2 separate regions of the Homo sapiens genome follow, and region 1 is linked to region 2. Evidence: fine-mapped expression QTL. Tissue or cell type: whole blood. Region 2 holds a variant in brackets; the other region holds the start of a gene. All regions are shown on one strand. Distances are from middle to middle.

Region 1 (9,039 bases), 240 kb before region 2:
ACATTAAGGATTTTGTTTTTTGTCCCGAGAGCAATGAAAGCCATTGACTTCAGGTCTGAAGCAAGGCAAGAGAGATGGTCAGATCCAGGTTTTTTCGTTTTCGTTTTTTTTTTTTTTTTGAGACAGAGTCTCATTCTGTCGCCCAGGCTGGAGTGCAGTGGCGTGATCTTGGCTCGCTGCAACCTCCGTCTCCCAGATTCAAGCGATTCTCTACCACAGCCTCCCGAGTAGCTGGACTACAAGGACGTGCCACCATGCCCAGCTAATTTTTGTATTTTTAGTAGAGACAAAGTTTCACCATGTTGGCTAGGCTGGTCTCAAACTCCTGACCTCAGGTGATCTGCCTGCCTCGGCCTCCCAAAGTGCTGGGATTACAGGCATGAGCCACTGTACCCGGCCAAGGTTTTGAAAAGAGCTTTCTAGCTGTAGAATGGAAAACCTATATGAGATTATAAAGAGATTATGCTAAAAGAAATTGGTGATAGTGGTAGAAAACCTCTGCCAGTTAAGTGTTGACAAGAATAATCTAGTTGAAAGGGAATGGCTAATTACACAGCACAGAAAAGAGATAGTTGCGCATGTTTTAATAACAGACAAGTCCTGTCTTTAGATCTGGGTAAGGGGCCTCTGTTTACTTGGCCCTCCTCTTGCTGTAAAGAACAAGGAGCCCATGAGGTCAGGGGCCATGTCTGCCTGGAGCCTGCCCTCCTCTTTTAGACTGGCTAGATCTGAGGGCAGAGTGAGCTGCCGATTGTACATCACCATTTGCGGAGTAGGGGGATGTGGACATACACCTGGACATGTTGGGTGCATGTATGGCCTTTCCGTGTGGCAGGTGAACTTGGGGATGGGAGGAGAATGGGGTCAGTGTGGGGACTCTAAGAACTCTAAATTCAAACATGGACTTCCAGATCATATGAAAGTGGATCTGTCAAGGTAGTAGAATAGAATGTATTTTATATAATAGTTTGTTATCTTGATTTATTTTTTAAATATTTAGACAGATGGTGTGTGGACCTCTATAGCCACACTCTTGCTTAGGCTCTACAAATTAAGTGCCAGGCCTAATAACAGTGCATGAAAGTATAATGTAATGCAAGGAGTAACAAATTCATGCAGGCAAGGGTGTAGTTTAACTGGGCTCTTAAGAAGTCCGATTTTCCAGACCTGTGTGCTAGAGATTAGAGAATGAGTGGTGCAAGTTTCCAGGCACTACATTAATGTATGTTAGAGACACTTTTCTAGATCAGGAGGGCCAACAATTAAAAAATGAATTCAATTGTAATGGTTTCGGTGTGATTTTGAAAAGCTTCTTGAATATGGCATAAGTTGAGTGTGGAAGGGACCTTAGTGATCACGTAATCAAATATGCTAACTCAACAGGTAAGAAAACGGAGGTCCTAACAAGTGAAGCAGCCTGACTAAGGTCACGAAACTAGTGCGTTAGCAGATGATTTCCAGCCTAATCCACTCAGTCCACTCTCCCACCAATGCTAATTTTCTTGAAGACATCTGCTGCCAGTCAATTCCAATTAGAAAGTTTTCATGTTACATATTAAATACTGTTATTACTTTAAAAAATTTGAGGCACATAAAAATAAGTCCATAAACCAATATTAAATTTGACTCCAAAACATTCTTTTTTTTTTTTTTGAGATGGAGTCTTACTCTGTCACCCAGGCTGGAGTGCAGTGGCACGATCTCAGCTCACTGCAACCTCCACCTCCAGGGGTCAAGCGAGTCTTTTGTCTTAGCCTCCCGAGGAGCTGGGACTACAAGCACGCACCACCACGCCTGGCTAATTTTTTTTGTATTTTTAGTAGAGACGGGGTTGCACCATGTCAGTCAGGCTGGTTTCAAACTCCTGACCTCAGGTGATCCACCCATCACCGCCTCCTAAAGTCTTGGGATTACATGCGTGAGCCACCCACCACTCTTGGCCGAAAAAAAAAAAATTCTTAAAAATATTCTTAAAAAAATGAGTAAATAGGCACTGTCGCCCCGGGTGGAGTGCAATGGCACGAACTCAGCTTACTGCAACCTCTGCCTTACAGATTCAAGGGATTCTTCTGCCTCAGCCTCCAGAGTAGCTGGGACTACAGGCGCATGCCACTACGCCCAGCTAATTATGTATTTTTAGTAGAGGCAGGGTTTCACTATGTTGGCCAGGCTGGTCTCGAACTCCTGACATTGTGATCTGCCCGCCTTGGCCTCCCAAAGTGCTGGGATTACAGGTATGAGCCACCGCGCCCGGCCACATTCCTTATCTTTTAAGCTAAAACCCATCTCCCCAAATTGCTTATTTTCGAAGCAAAAATCAAAGCACATGCTTACAAAACATCGAACACGCAGTGTGCTTACTAAACGCTAAAATACAGAAACCTAAAAAAACAATTCTTGCTTTTCAAACATCCATAAATAATCGCCAACGAATTTTTCCTGGCAAGTCTACGTTATAATAATAATAATATTATTATTATTATTATTATTTTTTGAGACGGAGTCTTGCCCTGTCGCCCAAGCTGGAGTGCAGTGGCGCAGTCTCGGCTCACTGCAACCTCCGCCTCCTGGGTTCAAGCGATTCTCCTGCCCCAGCCTCCCCAGTAGCTGGGATTACAGGTGCGCGCTTCCATGCCCAGCTAATTTTTGCATTTTTAGTAGAGACGGGGTTTCACCATGTTGGTCAGGCTGGTCTCGAACTTCTGACCTCGTGATCCGCCCGCCCCGGTCTCCCAAAGTGCTGGGATTACAGGTGTGAGCCACCGCGCCCGGCTATAATAATTATTATAAAATTCAAATCTTAAGGCCGCACATGGTGGCTCACGCCTGTAATCCCAGCACTTTGGGAAGCGGAGGTGGGCCGCTCACCTGAGATCAGGAGTTCGAGTCCAGCCTGGCCAACATGGTGAAACCCCGTCTCTAATAAACACAAAAATTAGCCAAGCATGGTGCCGGACGCCTGTAGTCCCTGTTACTGGGGAGGCTGAGGCAGGAGAATCGCTTGAATCTGGGAGGCGGAGGTTGCGGTGAGCCGAGATCGCGCCACGGCACTCCAGCCTCGACAACAGAGCAAAACTCCGTCCCAATAAATAAATAAATAAATAAAATAAAAATCTTAAGGGTCTAGTCACAACAGTTCAAAAGTCTCCAAAGGGAGACTCTCACCTTCAAGCTTGTAAGTAATACTAAAGTTCTAGATTTGCTGGAAGTTATCTCCTTCAATGGATTACAGCACATGATCTAGCAATAATAACGTACCTTGTCACCACATCGAATGATTTTGAACACTTCCCATCAATCGACTACCGACTAACAAAAAGAAGGACTTGATTCCCGGCAATTTTTTCTCTTCTGAACTGAGCATTCCCGAAATCCAGCTTGCTGAACGCGCAGATGCAGGGTGAGAGGCACCCCAGGAAAAATGGAAGGGAAAGTGGTACAAGTTAAAACAGTCTTCGTGGCCGCAGAGACGATCGCTACCTCGGCCATGGCAGATCTGGGGGTCCGGGGCGGGGGTTCTTCCCTGATACCCACCGGGCACGCGAGTTCACGCCAGCGACAGTGGAAAGCCCTCCCCTCGCAGCGCGCTCCGCCACTAGCCGCACCCCGCCGAGCTCTGACCTCCGAAGAGGGTCCCTGTGGCGATCCCGCCCCTTCGTCTGATGTTTGTGCCTTTGATTGGCTCTTAGGTGGATCCCTCAGCGTGGCTTGCCCAATGGAGCAATGCCGGCTGGTGGCCTGGCCGCTCCGCCCCTTCCCTACCCCTCGCGGAGGGCCCGCCCCCTGCCCCGCGCCGGCTAGCGGAGGAGAGTAAATACAACAGGAGCGCAAAATGGCGGAACCGCCGAGCCCCGTGCACTGTGTCGCTGCCGCGGCCCCCACCGCCACCGTCTCGGAGAAAGAACCGTTTGGCAAGCTGCAACTCTCCTCCCGGGACCCTCCGGGTTCTCTGTCCGCCAAGAAGGTCCGGACTGAGGAGAAGAAGGCACCGCGGAGAGTGAACGGAGAAGGGGGCAGCGGCGGGAACAGCAGGCAGCTGCAGCCGCCGGCAGCACCTTCGCCTCAGAGCTATGGCAGCCCCGCGTCTTGGAGCTTTGCCCCTCTGTCTGCTGCTCCCTCCCCGTCCTCTTCTCGGAGCAGTTTCTCTTTCTCCGCTGGCACGGCCGTTCCCTCCTCAGCCTCCGCTTCCTTGTCTCAGCCGGTGCCGCGCAAACTGCTGGTCCCTCCTACGCTGCTGCACGCTCAGCCTCACCATCTCCTCCTGCCCGCCGCCGCCGCCGCTGCCTCGGCTAACGCCAAGTCGCGCAGACCTAAGGAGAAGCGGGAGAAGGAGAGGAGGAGGCACGGTCTCGGTGGGGCCCGAGAGGCCGGCGGGGCCTCCCGGGAGGAGAACGGGGAGGTGAAGCCGCTGCCCCGAGGTGGGTGCCGTGCGGGGAGGGGGAGGGGAGGGCGCCGTGGGTCCCCGCCGCCCCCTGGCGCCCACGGGGCCCGGGAAGGGGGAGCGCGGCGGCCGCGTGCGCCGGCCTGGAGGGGCTGGGAGGCGTCCGGTTTTCAGCAGAGGATTTTGCAGTTCCCAAGGGGACAGGAAATGGAGCCTGTAATTTCGGTTGCAGAGAGGGGGATGGCCGACACTCTTATTTTCTGTATCGTTTCTTCCTCCCAGTTAGTGCGCTGCAGGATTTGTGAAAATCCATCTTGAGGACTCTCCTAGGTTTGTTTGGCTAGGGAGAGAGATGGAGGGAACGGGATGGGGGAAGGGTTTGGTTTTGTAAAAGATGCTTGATTGATTGTTAGACCACTTAGACGTGGTCGCGGGAATTCGTATTTGTGACACAGCGTTCAACCCCGGATAATCCTGTCAAAAAAGGGGTGTGGAGAGAGCACTGGCGTCAGCTGGAAGCTACCAGAGGCCTGAGCTTTTCATCCCTATTAGGGAAATGAGGTAGCGTGCAGGGCCCGAAGTGCGCTGTTTCGTAAGGTACCCTCCCTGCACCCTACTCTCCGCTGCGTATTCTTAAGTGTTTTGGGTGGTCCTGTTTGAAATACCACCCTTCTGAAAGAATTTTCAGCCATATTCTTTTTTTCCCTGCAGCAAATGATAAAACCAGGAGCTTTGACGATTTTTCGCCAGATCAAGCGGCTGCAGAATGTTTGAGCATTAGAAAAAGGCGAATTCTTAAGGGTTCTTGTCAGACAGGGTCAGTTTTGTTTTTAAATGTAGGCTAGTCGTATAATTTTTCAGGTGTTTCCACCACTTCAGCTACGGATACACAATGATCTGACAATAGTGCAACATACGGACTAGTTGAAAATCAAATCTTTATGTGATCGCAAGCTTAAAGCGCATAATCTTTATTATAAATGTGCACTGCTACACAGTGTTGTCAAATAACTCTTTTTGTTTTTTAGAAAAAGAAATGTCAAGCAGTTTCAGCATTGCTGATCTAACAGTAGCTCAGATCATGAAAAATTCTGTTTGGATTATAATGGTTTGTTTTCACAACTTAAAACATGCTGCATGTGCATGTAGCAATAGTGTCACTTCTTCCTTGATATTTTTTGCCTGTAGCAAAGCTTTAACATCTAAGCATAGCCATCAGGGACTCTGGTGCAATGTAAATATCTTTCAGCTTCTGGGAGTGTTGTTTCTAGGAAAGTGGTTTTGAGGATGGGATTTTGGTACTTTTAGTCAGGAATTCCAGGTGATTAGTATTTTAAAGCTATTTTGTTTTAACAATTTATATGTAAAATTTAGGAGATAAGTGCCTGGAAGTTTGTCCATATGCAGCTTGGTATCATCACTAGTGTTTGTGGTGTGTAAACTGCACATTTGCTGTAAGTTCTCTGAAAGAGGAAGTGAATATGAGTATTACATAGTTGGAGTAATGGAATATTTGAGAAGAAATAAGTAAGCATTCTTTAACAATTCTAACTTAAAATGTGGAGTACACAAATGGTCCTTAAAGTGAAATGGCTGTTAAAGAGGAATTTTTATAGTCTTTTCAATTACATTTAGAATCCTTCTTCTTTTGAGGGTTAACACTAATATTATTAATCCTGAATATAAACAGTGATAGGTTTTACATTAAGATGTGGGAATGATCTTTTCCCATGACCTATGTGGGTTTTTTGGAGTAGTGACAAGATATTAACACTACTGTAAGATTTTCATTTTTTCAGACACAAATGCTATCTTGTTGAGGAAAAACTATCAGAGAAAAAGATTCCTTTCCAGTGTCTTGGTGGTAAATTTAATGGTGAAAATTTTTCCCTCGTAACTTGGGGAATACTTATATCTTTCTAAAGTTTGGATTTAACTGAATTGATGTTCTGTTTTAACGAATTAAGAAGATTCTTAAATAGCGGTATTAACAAGTGGTATAGCAAGAATACATATATGCCTTTATTATAGATATAATTGCAAATATGAAAGTCCTGATTTGCAATACAATGATCATTTCTCTGTGCTTTTTGTAAAAATCTTAGTGAATGGGTGACCAAGTGTTTGTTTAGGTATATACCTCTTTTTAGTGTTGCCCTAAGTTGGCTGTGCATGGTTCAGTAACCCCTCAATTATCCACAGCTGGCTGATTGAACAGTCTGAGTCAGAACCAGACATTAGCTATAAAGACACCTAAACAAGGAAGAGATTCTCCCTCAACAAAACAAAACTGAACCACACACACTCGAAAGACCTAGCCTGCACCCCAATTTGATTAAACAATTAAGCTCCTGTATTTATTAATAGTAGGGCTTTTAAAAAGTCCTAAGTCAGAACTGCTTTATTTTTACATTGGTGACCATTCTAACAGAACGTATTTGGGTTAAATGAAAGCATGTATAAGAAAGGGCCTAGCAGGGTATTTAGTAAATGTTATTTGAGTCTGAAGCATAGTTATTAATTTTTTAACCCTATAACTAATTGAAAGATGGGTGAATGCTGATAGAGGAAGGATCATTGACAGATATGAAAGTTAAGAATGCTGAACAAGAGAATTATGAAAGTATACTAATATGGCCCCATTTAGTACCAGGGCCTGATGCCTCACAATCTCTAAGGCCATCTAATCATAGTACTGTAGCTGACTTGCGTGATAGCTTGACTCACCAAGTAAAAGTTAAATTTCTTATAAGAAGGAAAAGTGCAAAACAGTTTAGATTTTTTTTTTTTTTTTGGAAACAGAGTCTCGCTCTTGTTGGCCAGGTTGGAGTGCAGTGGCGCGATCTCGGCTCGCTGCAACCTCCGCCTCCCGGGTTCAAGCAATTCTCCTGCCTCAGCCTCCCGAGTGGCTGGAATTATAGGCACTCGCCAACACGCCTGGCTAATTTTTGTATTTTTAGTAGAGAGGGGGTTTCACCATGTTGGCCAGGCTGGTCTCAAACTCCTGACCTTGTGATCTGCCTGCCTTGGCCTCCCAAAGTGCTGAGATTACAGGCGTGAGCCACCGTGCCTGGCCAACATTTTAGATTTTTAAAACCAGAAAATAACCTGATTTTAGTGCTTACGGAGGTAATTTACTGGAGAGTTAATCAATATTCCTGTAAGACTGAATAAATTGTAGAATTGGTAAGTGTGGAAAGTAAAAGTGGACATATACCAAGGGTATCCAAAATTTAGAATTATTTTATGGCAAACCACAACAAATATTTCATTAGCTGTCAGTGTGCCTTCACTGACTCCAGTAACCAGCAAAATTTGTATAGATCTTCTAACTTTTGTTAGTACTTTTGCTTTGTATTTGTTAACTTACTTTTTTCCTTAAAATGACCCTGTGAAGTATTTCAAGACAAAACCAGAGCATTTCACTGAATTTTTGCCTTGAAAGTGTAGTTGCAGGATTTAACTCTAATGAAAATAGCAGCTTTTCTTAGAATCAAATAATTTGAGGTATATAAATGTGAGTGATGTCAAAGGGATGGGTGTCTGAAGATTTTTCTAACTACACTCTCCTCCAGTATTGTTACTGTACAATTTTAGGTTAAATTCATATTCAGAGTTTTTATCATATGACTAAATATTTGTCTCTGCTGAGGGAATAATTTACTATGATTTTATTTTCTTGTGTAACCTTTTGTTTTTCATGTCTCATTTTTTTCATTTGCTTAGTTTTCTCTGGCAGAGTCTTTCTGTACCCTCCAGTAGCTCCATAAAATGCTTCTCAGTACAATTTTCCACATGGGCAAATCTGTCAGATAAACTTACCCATTCCATTTGTTCCTGTAGACATCCCTTCTGGGGCCGGGCGCGGTGGCTCACGCCTGTAATCCCAGCACTTCGGGAGGCTGAAGCTGGCGAATCGCCTGAGCTCAGGAGTTCAACACTAGCCTGGGCAACACGGTGAAACCCCATCTCTACTAAAAATACAAAAAATTAGCCGGGTGTGGCGGCACGCACCTATAGTCTCAGCTACCTGGGAGGCTGAGGCATCGCTTGAACCCAGGAGGCGGAGGTTACAGTAAGCTGAGATGGCGTCACTGTACTCCAGCCTGGGCGACAGAGCAAGACTCTGGCTCAAAAAAAAAAAAAAAAAAACAACAACAACAACAACAACAAAAAAAAACGACATCCCTTCTGTAGCTGTCCTTACTGCTTTAGCCTGGGTTGTTTCCTCTTTAGGCCTGCTGCATAGCTGTCACCTTGGGACTTTCCTTAGTTGACATTCTGGGAATTTCTTTAACTTTTGTTGAATTTTATTTTTCCGGATCTCATGCCTTCCTTTTGGTTTCTTCCTTCATTTTGGATTTTCATTTTGGATTTCATTTTTATCCTTTTACTTGACTGGCAGTTAAGAGATTTCTGCATTGGAAATAATTTTCCCTCAAAAGTTTGAAGGTGGTGTTCCCTTATTGCCTGGTTCCCAAAGTAGATGTTAAGACGTCTGATCTCCAAAAAGTTGTCTATTCTACTATCTGGGGAATGTCAATCCTTTCACTGAATTTTATAATTTATATATTTTTTTCTTTGGTGTTTTTCTTCACATCTCACTCTTCCTTCTGAACTTTCACTGAATTTTACTTTTTTTTTTTTTTTTGAGATGG
Region 2 (9,039 bases):
AGGATAAATATAATGCATTTTAAAGGTACATGACAAATCTAGTCACAGAGGACAGCCAAAAAAAAAAAAATTGAAGATACCTGGCCATAAGGATGACTATGACCATGATTTATTCAGTAAAAGTTTTTTAATTAATTTAAATCAAAATTTTACTCATCTTTATTTTGTACATTGCAAACTCCCAGGATAAAGTAAACTGATTAGAAATTACTTAACTTGTTTTAATTTTTTACTTTTATACCACAGATTATCTCAAGAACATGAGTTGGCAGTTACCTTCTTGGTTTAAATATCAATTTTATGTTGATTTCACTTCCATTTGTGAAACAAAAACAGTAGATAAATCCACTCTTGCTTAAAAAAAAAAAGACTAGAATAAGAAAATACAGTCATTCCTGGGTATCCACGTGAGATTGGTAGATATCCGGCCCTTCTATAAATACCAAAATCCAAGGATTCTCAAATCTCACAGTCAGCCCTGTGGAACCTGATGACACATAAGTCAGCCCTCGCCCTCCATTTCTCCAAAACTGTGGGTTCTGCATCTCAGGAATATTGTATTTTCTATCTGCAGATGTGGAATGCATGGATATGGGAGGCCAATGGTATTGCCATTAATAACATCAATTAAAGTCAGTTAATGTTCACCGTGCAGACCGTATGAACTTAGACTACTTAGACTACTCTCTCTGCCTACCTGAGTTGTGAACTTCATATAAAATTTAAGAGAAAATAGATACAACCTTTGTATGCAAAGTAATATCTGAGCTGAAATATGAAATCAAATAAATTTTGATGTGAAGGTATTTTGTTACTGAATAAAAGCTAATATATTTTGTAATGTTTTGCTGTCTCACTATCTTTTGAGGGTGTATTTGTTGTTTTAGCAAAAAGTATCAATATATGGGTTCTGATAGTATCCTTTGAGTTGGAAAGAGTACATAAATTGTATTAATGTCAAAGAATATCTTGATTTCAGGACGCCCCTAAATCGGGTACTAGTTGCAGCTCTCGCTGTTCAAGTTCCAGACAGGATTCTGAGAGTGCAAGGCCAGAATCTGAAACAGAAGATGTGTTATGGGAAGACTTGTTACATTGTGCAGAATGCCATTCATCTTGTACCAGTGAGACAGATGTGGAAAATCATCAGATTAATCCATGTGTGAAAAAAGAATATAGAGATGACCCTTTTCATCAGGTTGGTTTATGGTTTTGGCTTATGTGGAGCTATGAGTCAAGCTCCTTTGAATTTATGTTCAAATGTTACAGAGGTGAAGAAAAAGCTTACATTCAAGCTTATATTTCTATAATTTTTTTTCTTTTTATGTGAGCTGTGGTCTGGCTTCATCAAAACATAGAATCTCAGTACTTATATTGTGGTTATGTATGTTCCTGAAAAGTTATTGGTAACTGGAGTTTCGTAAGTCAAATCGTGTGTTAGGTGCAATAGTACTTTCTTACTGAACATACTTTGTGGCCAGATGCATGTACACCTTGGTCTAAACTCCACCTATAAGATTATATTCACAAATCTACATCTCATGAATATCAAATTTGTAGCTCCAAGTGCCCATAGTAATGCTATCCAATGGAAATATTATGAGAGTCAGATGTATAATTTTTAATTTTCTGGTAGCCTCATTAAATATTTTTTAAAGGGGAAATTCAAATATGTTTTATTTAGACCATTATATTCATAATATCACTTTAACATATAACTAATATGAAAAAATTAATGAAATATTTTACATTTTTAATACTAAATCTTCAAAATCTGGTGTAAACACTTAGAGCACATCTCATTTTGGACTAGCCACATTTTTTTTTTTTTTTTTTTTTGAGATGGAGTCTGTCCCTCTTGTCACCCAGGCTGGAGTACAATGGCACGATCTTGACTCACTGCAACCTTCGCCTCCCAGGTTCCAGCGATTCTCCTGCCTCAGCCTTCTGAGTAGTAGGGATTACAGGCGCCCGCCACCACACCCGGCTAATTTTTATGTTATTAGTAGAGACAGGCTTTCACCATGTTGGCCAGGCTGGTCTCGAACTCCTGACCTCAAGTGATTCTCCCACCTCAGCCTCCCAAAGTGCTGGGATTACAGGCATAAGCCACCCTGCCCAGTCGGACTAGCCACATTTCAAATGCTGAATAGCCACATGTGAGGAGGGTACTATATTGGACAGCACGATTTTATAGGATATCTTTATTTGAATGTCCCACCAATACCTCAAATTTAACCAGTCCTCCCTCATAAATCTGTTTTTCTTATTCCATTCAAAATTTTGGTGAATGACATCTCCATTCATCTACTCACTAGTCCAGAAACTTGGTGGTCATTTAAAATTCCCCTCTTCTTCACCTTCTCTCTCTTATCCAACTCCTTATCTAATCCTGTCAAACCAAGTAAAGTCAGAAAACTCGAGAAAAAAAAGAGAACTTTCAATCTGATAAAAGGGTGATGCATAGCTATCAAAGAACCTTCTGCTATAACAATCCCAGAGGCTGGGTGGCTTAAACAACAAACATTTATTTCTCACAGTTCTGAGGCCTGGAAGTCCAAGATCAGGGTGCCAGCATGATTGGTTCTTGGTAAAGGTTCTCTTCCTGGTTTACAACAGCTATCTTATCCTTGTATCCTTACACGGTGGAAATAAGGGAGCTCTGGTCTCTTTACCTCTGTCTGGTTTTGGTTGGAGTTAGGCTGATTTAAAGTCCATATTAAAGAGCAAAATATCAAGAATAGCAAAAACAATTTTGAAGAACAACAGGGATCTTTCCCTACTGGATATAAAAATTTACTTTCAATTTAATACTCAAGATAGTATAGTATAGACATATAAACATATATACCGATGGAACAGAATAGAAAACTCAGAAATAGACATTTGTTTATAATGGATCACTAATACATGACAATAAGTGGCATTACAAGTCAGTAGAAAAAGAACGGACTATATGGTTGTGAGTCAAATGATTATACACTTGAAAATTTATTCCAAATAGTTTCTAAAGGTGAAAAGCGAAACTTTAAAGCATTTAGAAGAAAATACAGGAGAAAAATCTTTATTACTTCAGGTTAGAGAAGAATTTTTAAAAACAAGATATAAAAAGCACAAACAAAAATGGAGAGATAAATTTGAATATCTTAAGATTTAAAACTTTGGGCGTGTTAAAAGATGAGCCACAGGCTGGGAGAAGATATTTCCAATACATTAACTATCACAGTGTTACTACATACAGGACATAAAGAACTCCTACAGATGAATAAGTAAAAGACAAATGACTCAATAGAAAAATAAAAGGATGTGAACAGGTCCCCTGATGGCTAATAAAATATAAGTGAAGATGGTCAGCCTTGCTATTAGTTAGGGAAATGTAAATTAGAACAATTAGATACTACTTAATATTGATCAAATTGTCAAAATTTAAAACCTGATAAATTTCAATGTTGGCAAGAATGTGAAGAGAGAACTCTTTAATACTGATGTTTGTTTGTACAGCTACTTTGAAGAGCAGTTTGTCATTATATAGTAAAGTTGAAGTTCTATATATTCTAGGACCCTTTCATTCCAATTTAGAATGAAACTTTAGAAGATAGGCACTATCATTGCATTGTGCATGATAGTGAAAGTTGAAAATATAATAGCCAATAATAGTGGAATTAATAAATAATGTTGTATGATAAAACAGTATACAGCAGTGAAATTGAATGAACTCGGCTGCATGTATCAACATGAATAAGTTTTTGAATATAATTTTGAATGAAAAAGGCAAGCTGCCTTTACTTTAAATAACCCTGTCTCTACTGAAAATACAAAAATTAGCCAGGCGTGGTGACAGGCACCTGTAATCCCAGCTACTCTGGAAGCTGAGGCATAAGAATCACTTGAACCTGGGAGGCAGGGCTTAGCAGTGAGCTGAGATGGCGCTATTGCACTCCAGCCTGAGCGACAGAGCGGACTCTGTCTCAAAAATAAAATAAAAAATAAAAAGGATGGCTATGAATGTTTAGAAAAAACAAAGTGGTAATTAGGGAAATTGAGCTGGAGTGTTTTGGTGTTGACTCCCTAATATATGAGATATTTGAAAACATTGATATATACAGGAGAAAACAGGTAGGGAAGAATCAAAGAGATACGGAAGAAAATGTTGACTGGTGGAATGATTTCTTAGGATTCTGGAGGGGAATCATAATCAGGAAGCTTAGCATTTGACAGGAAGAGGAAAACATCCTCTGCTGAGATAGGAGGATAAGGATGAGTGCATGCAGCAAGCAAGATGGTAAGAGAGTTATTGCCTGATGATCTTTTTTCCGTGAAGTGCAAGAGTCCAAGGGATCTACTGGCAATAAGCGAGATGATACAAGAGGAGGCTTTTGGATGGTGGTGAAGGCTTTAAGTTACCATTTGTGGAGAATGGAGAAAGGGGACAGAGAGAGGGAGAGAGAGAAAGAGGAAGAGAGAGAGAGAGAAAGAGAGAGAGAGAGAGAGAGTGTGTGTGTGTGTGTGTGTGTGTGTGTGTGTGTGTTCAAGCCAATGAACACATCAAAACAATCATACTGCCTTGCCACATTGTTGAGGGTCCAGCTGGAATCTGAAACCATGAATTTGTAGTTGCCTATTCTACACAGCTATGTGATGTTTTCTGGAATGTAGTTGTTACTATATCTGACATTTAATAAGCATTTACTTATGCCACACACTGTGCAAAGTAATCTAGTTGCATTATCTCATGTATTTAACCTTTACAACCTGTGGTAATGTAGTTTATTTTCATTTTACATTGCTCAGAGTTGAGTAATGTGCCCAAAGTCACACAGAGTAAGTGTTCAATAAATAGTTGCCACGCCTGTAATCCCAGCACTTTGGGAGGCCGAGGCGGGTGGATCACAAGGTTAGGAGATCGAGATCATCCTGGCTAACACGGTGAAACCCCATCTCTACTAAAAATACAAAAAATTAGCCGGGCGTGGTGGCGGG[T/C]GCCTGTAATCCCAGTTACTCAGGAGGCTGAGGCAGGAGAATGGCGTGAACCCAGGAGGTAGAGCTTGCAGTGAGCCGAGATGGCACCACTGCACTCCAGCCTGGGCAACAGAGCGAGACTCCGTCTCAAAAAAATAATAATAATAAAATAAATAAATAAATAGTTGCTCTTCAAGGGACAGGAGAGGGGATGATTGAAATGGTGGATCTGGTGGCAGTCTAGTCATTAAATTGTTAGATTGAGAAGGAAATGAAATCAGGAAGGGACTGATAAATTTAAGGATAGGTGTGTTCAAGGGAACAAGTGTTTCAGAATTGAAGCTTTGAGAGACCAGGTAAGATGGGAAGTTGTAGTAGATTCCTTTCAGAAGTAGAGCAGTTCCGTATGGTGACAAGGTCTAGGGTGTGGCTGTGGGAGTAGCGTCCTTGGGATTGAAGAAATGAAAAAGTGAACAATCCATGAAAGCATAGGGTGTTGAATGAGTCATCTGCATATTCATCTAAGTCACTGAGACTAACAACTGGAGTTAAGATTGAGGGAAATGCCTGTGAGCTATTTTCCCAGAGATAACTATAAGCAGCATAAAAGCAGGGACCATGTGTTTTTTTTTTTTTTTTTTGCTCAGTGTTGTATCACACAGCGTGAGGTACACAGTAGGTATTTAATAAATATTGAATGCCTGAAACAAAATTAAATTTTTTCAAAACATGCCAATTAGGCCTTTCTTAAATGATTTAAAAAATTGTTTTATGATGTCTGTGCAGAGTAAATTGCTCCTAAGTCTGTCACACCAGTCGGCTACCTTTTTGGTAAGATAAAATTTGTTAATGCTCTACTCTGTATATCTAATTATGGTATCCTAGGCTTATATTGGTTTTGCTTTTAGATTAAAGACTTGATCTTAAACAGATTTTTAATTCTCAGGTTTCAAAAAATAAGCTCATGCTTTTAGTTTTACTAGTAGCTAAGTAATGGAAATTAGCTCCCTTTTACTAAAAAGCTACTAGTTTTTTTTCTTGTTTAACCAGTCTGTTAGGTTTGGAAGACCTTTTTCTGTCTGCTATACAGATGGAAAAATCCCTTCTCATGAAAAAACACTGAGCATTTGAATTAGTATGTTCTAATCAGAATATTCCCAAATGTGTATCTTTATTTCATTGTTTTATTTTGTTTGTAAATAGTAATTGAAACATTTCCACAGAAGAAAATTTTTCTCCTATAGCCCTCCTCTATAGCTGAATATATACTAAAATATAAAGCTATATTCAGCTGAAATTCAGTTTTTAGTAAGTGTAAAGCTTTAAATGGCTGCATTCCCACAGTTGGAAACACGAGTATGTGGTTGGCATGGTGAATTTATTTGAAATAAAACATGCCACCATTTAAGCAATAAGGTTTTCAGGTAGTTTTGAATGAATAAGGAGCAAAGCAGTTGAGATTTTAAGTGAGGATAAAGTATAATCATTTTAGAAGTTCTAAATTTTTGGATCTGTGATGCTGTCTTCAAAGGTAAAAAAAAATTTTAAGTTCTAAATTTTAGTTTGAAAACATATATAGCGGCCGGGCATGGTGGCTCACGCCTCTAATCCCAGCTTGGGAGGCCAAGGCGGGTGGATTACTTGAGGTCAGGAGTTCGAGACCAGCCTGGCAACATGGTGAAACTCCATCTCTATTAAAAATACAAAAATTAGTCGGGCATGGTGGTGGGCACGGTGGCAGGCACCTGTAATCCCAGCTGCTCAGGAGGCTGAGGCATGAGCATTGCTTGAACCCGGGAGGCGAAGGTTTCAGTTAGCCAAGAACCACACTCCAGCCTGGGCAGTGGAGCCCAACACAGTCTCAAAAAAAAAAAGAAAAAAGAAAATGTATTTAGAGTAACCTATGTGATAAAATTATAAAATGAAATTATTTGCTCTGATGTTTTCCCTGAACCTTTTAAAAAAAATTTCATGTGATGCTGTTCTCCACACTGCAGACATGATTCAACAAGACTGTTTTTCAGTGTACATTCCCCCCCCCCACACACACACACAGAGGAATATAGCAGTCTTTTTTATTTATTTTTTCAAGTTTCTACACACAACATTGAACATGTAATTTACCCTTTTTTTTTTTTTTTTTTTTTTTTTTCAGACGGAGTCCCACTCTGTCGCCCAGGCTGGAGTGCAGTGGCGCGATCTCGGCTCACTTCAAGCTCTGCCTCCCGGGTTCACGCCATTCTCTTGCCTCAGCCTCCCCAGTACCTGGGACTACAGGCACCAGCCACCATGCCTGGCTGATTTCTTTTTGTATTTTTAGTAGAGACGGGGTTTCACCGTGTTAGCCAGGATGGCTACTATCTCCTGACCTCGTGATCCGCCCACCTCAGCCTCCCAAAGTGCTGGGATTACAGGCGTGAGCCACCGCGCCCGGCGTAATTAACTCTTTTAAAATTCACCAGTTTCTAGTTGCTGTCTTCTCTTTTGCCTTTTGGCATTCTAGAAATAATGTAATATCAGATGCTGGATAGAGTAATTGGCAAGGTAGCTAGATGTAAAAGGAGTGCTTTTGGGAGGACAATGAGAATGTCCTGATTTCCTATTTCTGTCTCTAGATGGGCTTTCTTGGTATTGATATTCCTTTCTTCATGTAATTAGGAAGACCTTAATTCACTATTCCAGACTGAGAGTTTAAAAATGTCTGTAAATCAGTGGTTGAAATCTGTTGGCTCTCAAGCTTAAACTTCTTTCCTTTTAGCTTCTTGCACTTCCTGTTTCTGGCTTTTTGGTTTCCTTACGCTTAACAATTGTAAAATTTCTAGTGAAAGTTTGATACATATTTTGGTACAGATTATTTCTTTCCCAAAACAGAATATTTTGTTTGGAGATAAATGAGGAAATAACATTTGAGAAATTAAGTTGGTAGTTAATAACTAGTATCTTAGCACTCTTCAGGACCTCAAGTAGTGAAATGTATACCATGAAAGTTAAAGTATATTAAAATCCTTCATCTCTAGAAAAGATAAAAATTTCCCACCTCTTTTTTTTTACATTATTGAATTATTATTATTCAACTTTAGTTGAAATTAATCAATGCAACTTTACTCCCCCTAGAGGAAAGTGTTAAAAGTTTACAAGAAACATTTTTTTTACCATATTTTAATCACATTTTTGTCCTCTAAAGAATAAATGTACCTAGAGTAGATTCTTCTGTTCATTGTTAGAAGTTATATTTAATGAAATATTTTATAAAATTTGAGGTTGCTACGAATGCCAAAACTATTGTTTTTAGAAAATGTGGGAAGTGGCCAGACACCGTGGCTCACGCCTGTAATCCCAGCACTTTGGGAGGCTTAGGTGGGCAGATCACAAGTTCAGGAGTTCGAGACCAACCTGGTCAACATGGTGAAACCCCGTCTCTACAAAAATTTAAAGATTAGCTGGGCGTGGTGGTGGGCGCCTATAGTCCCAGCTACTTGGGAGGCTGAGGCAGGAGAATCACTTGAACCTGGGAGGCGGAGGTTGCAGTGAGCTGAGATCGCACCATTGCACTCCAGCCTGAGTAACAGAGCAAGACTCCGTCTCAAAAAACAAAATGTGGGAAGTATATGAGTCCTTAAAAATACACTAGAAATACTGCAATATAAACAAGCAAACTGATCTCTATCTGGGTTTAATCTTTTAGTGTTACTTCTCCTCTTGAAGTCTGATTATATAAAGGTTTAGTGTTTCATTAATTTTGTTGCCATCATTAACTCAACTGTTCTGTTTTGGGGCTGGGCGCAGTGGTTCACACCTGTAATCCCAGCACTTTGGGAGGTAGAGGCCGGTGGATCACCTGAGGTCAGGAGTTAGAGACCAGCCTGGCCAACATGGTGAAACCCCGTCTCTACTAAAAATAAAAAAATTAGCCAGGCATGGTGGCAGGTGCCTGTAGTCCGAGCTACTCAGGAGGCTGAGTGCTTCAGTTTTGTAATATTTGCTTTATCTGGAAAAAAAAAAAAAGTTAAATGGGTCCTTTGGAGAAATGCTGGATTAAAATATCAGAAAAGTAACTAAATCAGATATTAAACGTTAAAT

What was found.
Region 1: it holds the start of RSBN1L, and the variant in region 2 is fine-mapped to the expression of RSBN1L in whole blood (TOPMed, PIP 0.98).

The regions. Positions count from the first base shown.
Region 1 is chr7:77,692,638-77,701,676 of GRCh38, forward strand. RSBN1L (round spermatid basic protein 1 like) reads left to right here and starts at 3,822. Exons shown (of 8, transcript NM_198467.3): 1 at 3,822-4,418. The coding sequence starts at 3,833. It overlaps APTR (Alu-mediated CDKN1A/p21 transcriptional regulator), which reads right to left and starts at 3,628. Exons shown (of 2, transcript NR_134254.1): 1 at 3,259-3,628. RefSeq lists enhancers at 2,917-3,812, 3,813-4,708, 3,893-4,122 and silencers at 3,643-3,862, 4,333-4,652, 4,943-5,042.
Region 2 is chr7:77,928,130-77,937,168 of GRCh38, forward strand. It overlaps PHTF2 (putative homeodomain transcription factor 2), which reads left to right. Exons shown (of 19, transcript NM_001395272.1): 11 at 980-1,198. Among named protein-coding and RNA genes, the nearest start is that of DDX3ILA1, 58 kb to the right of the region's middle. The variant T/C (reference allele first, on the strand shown) is at 4,981.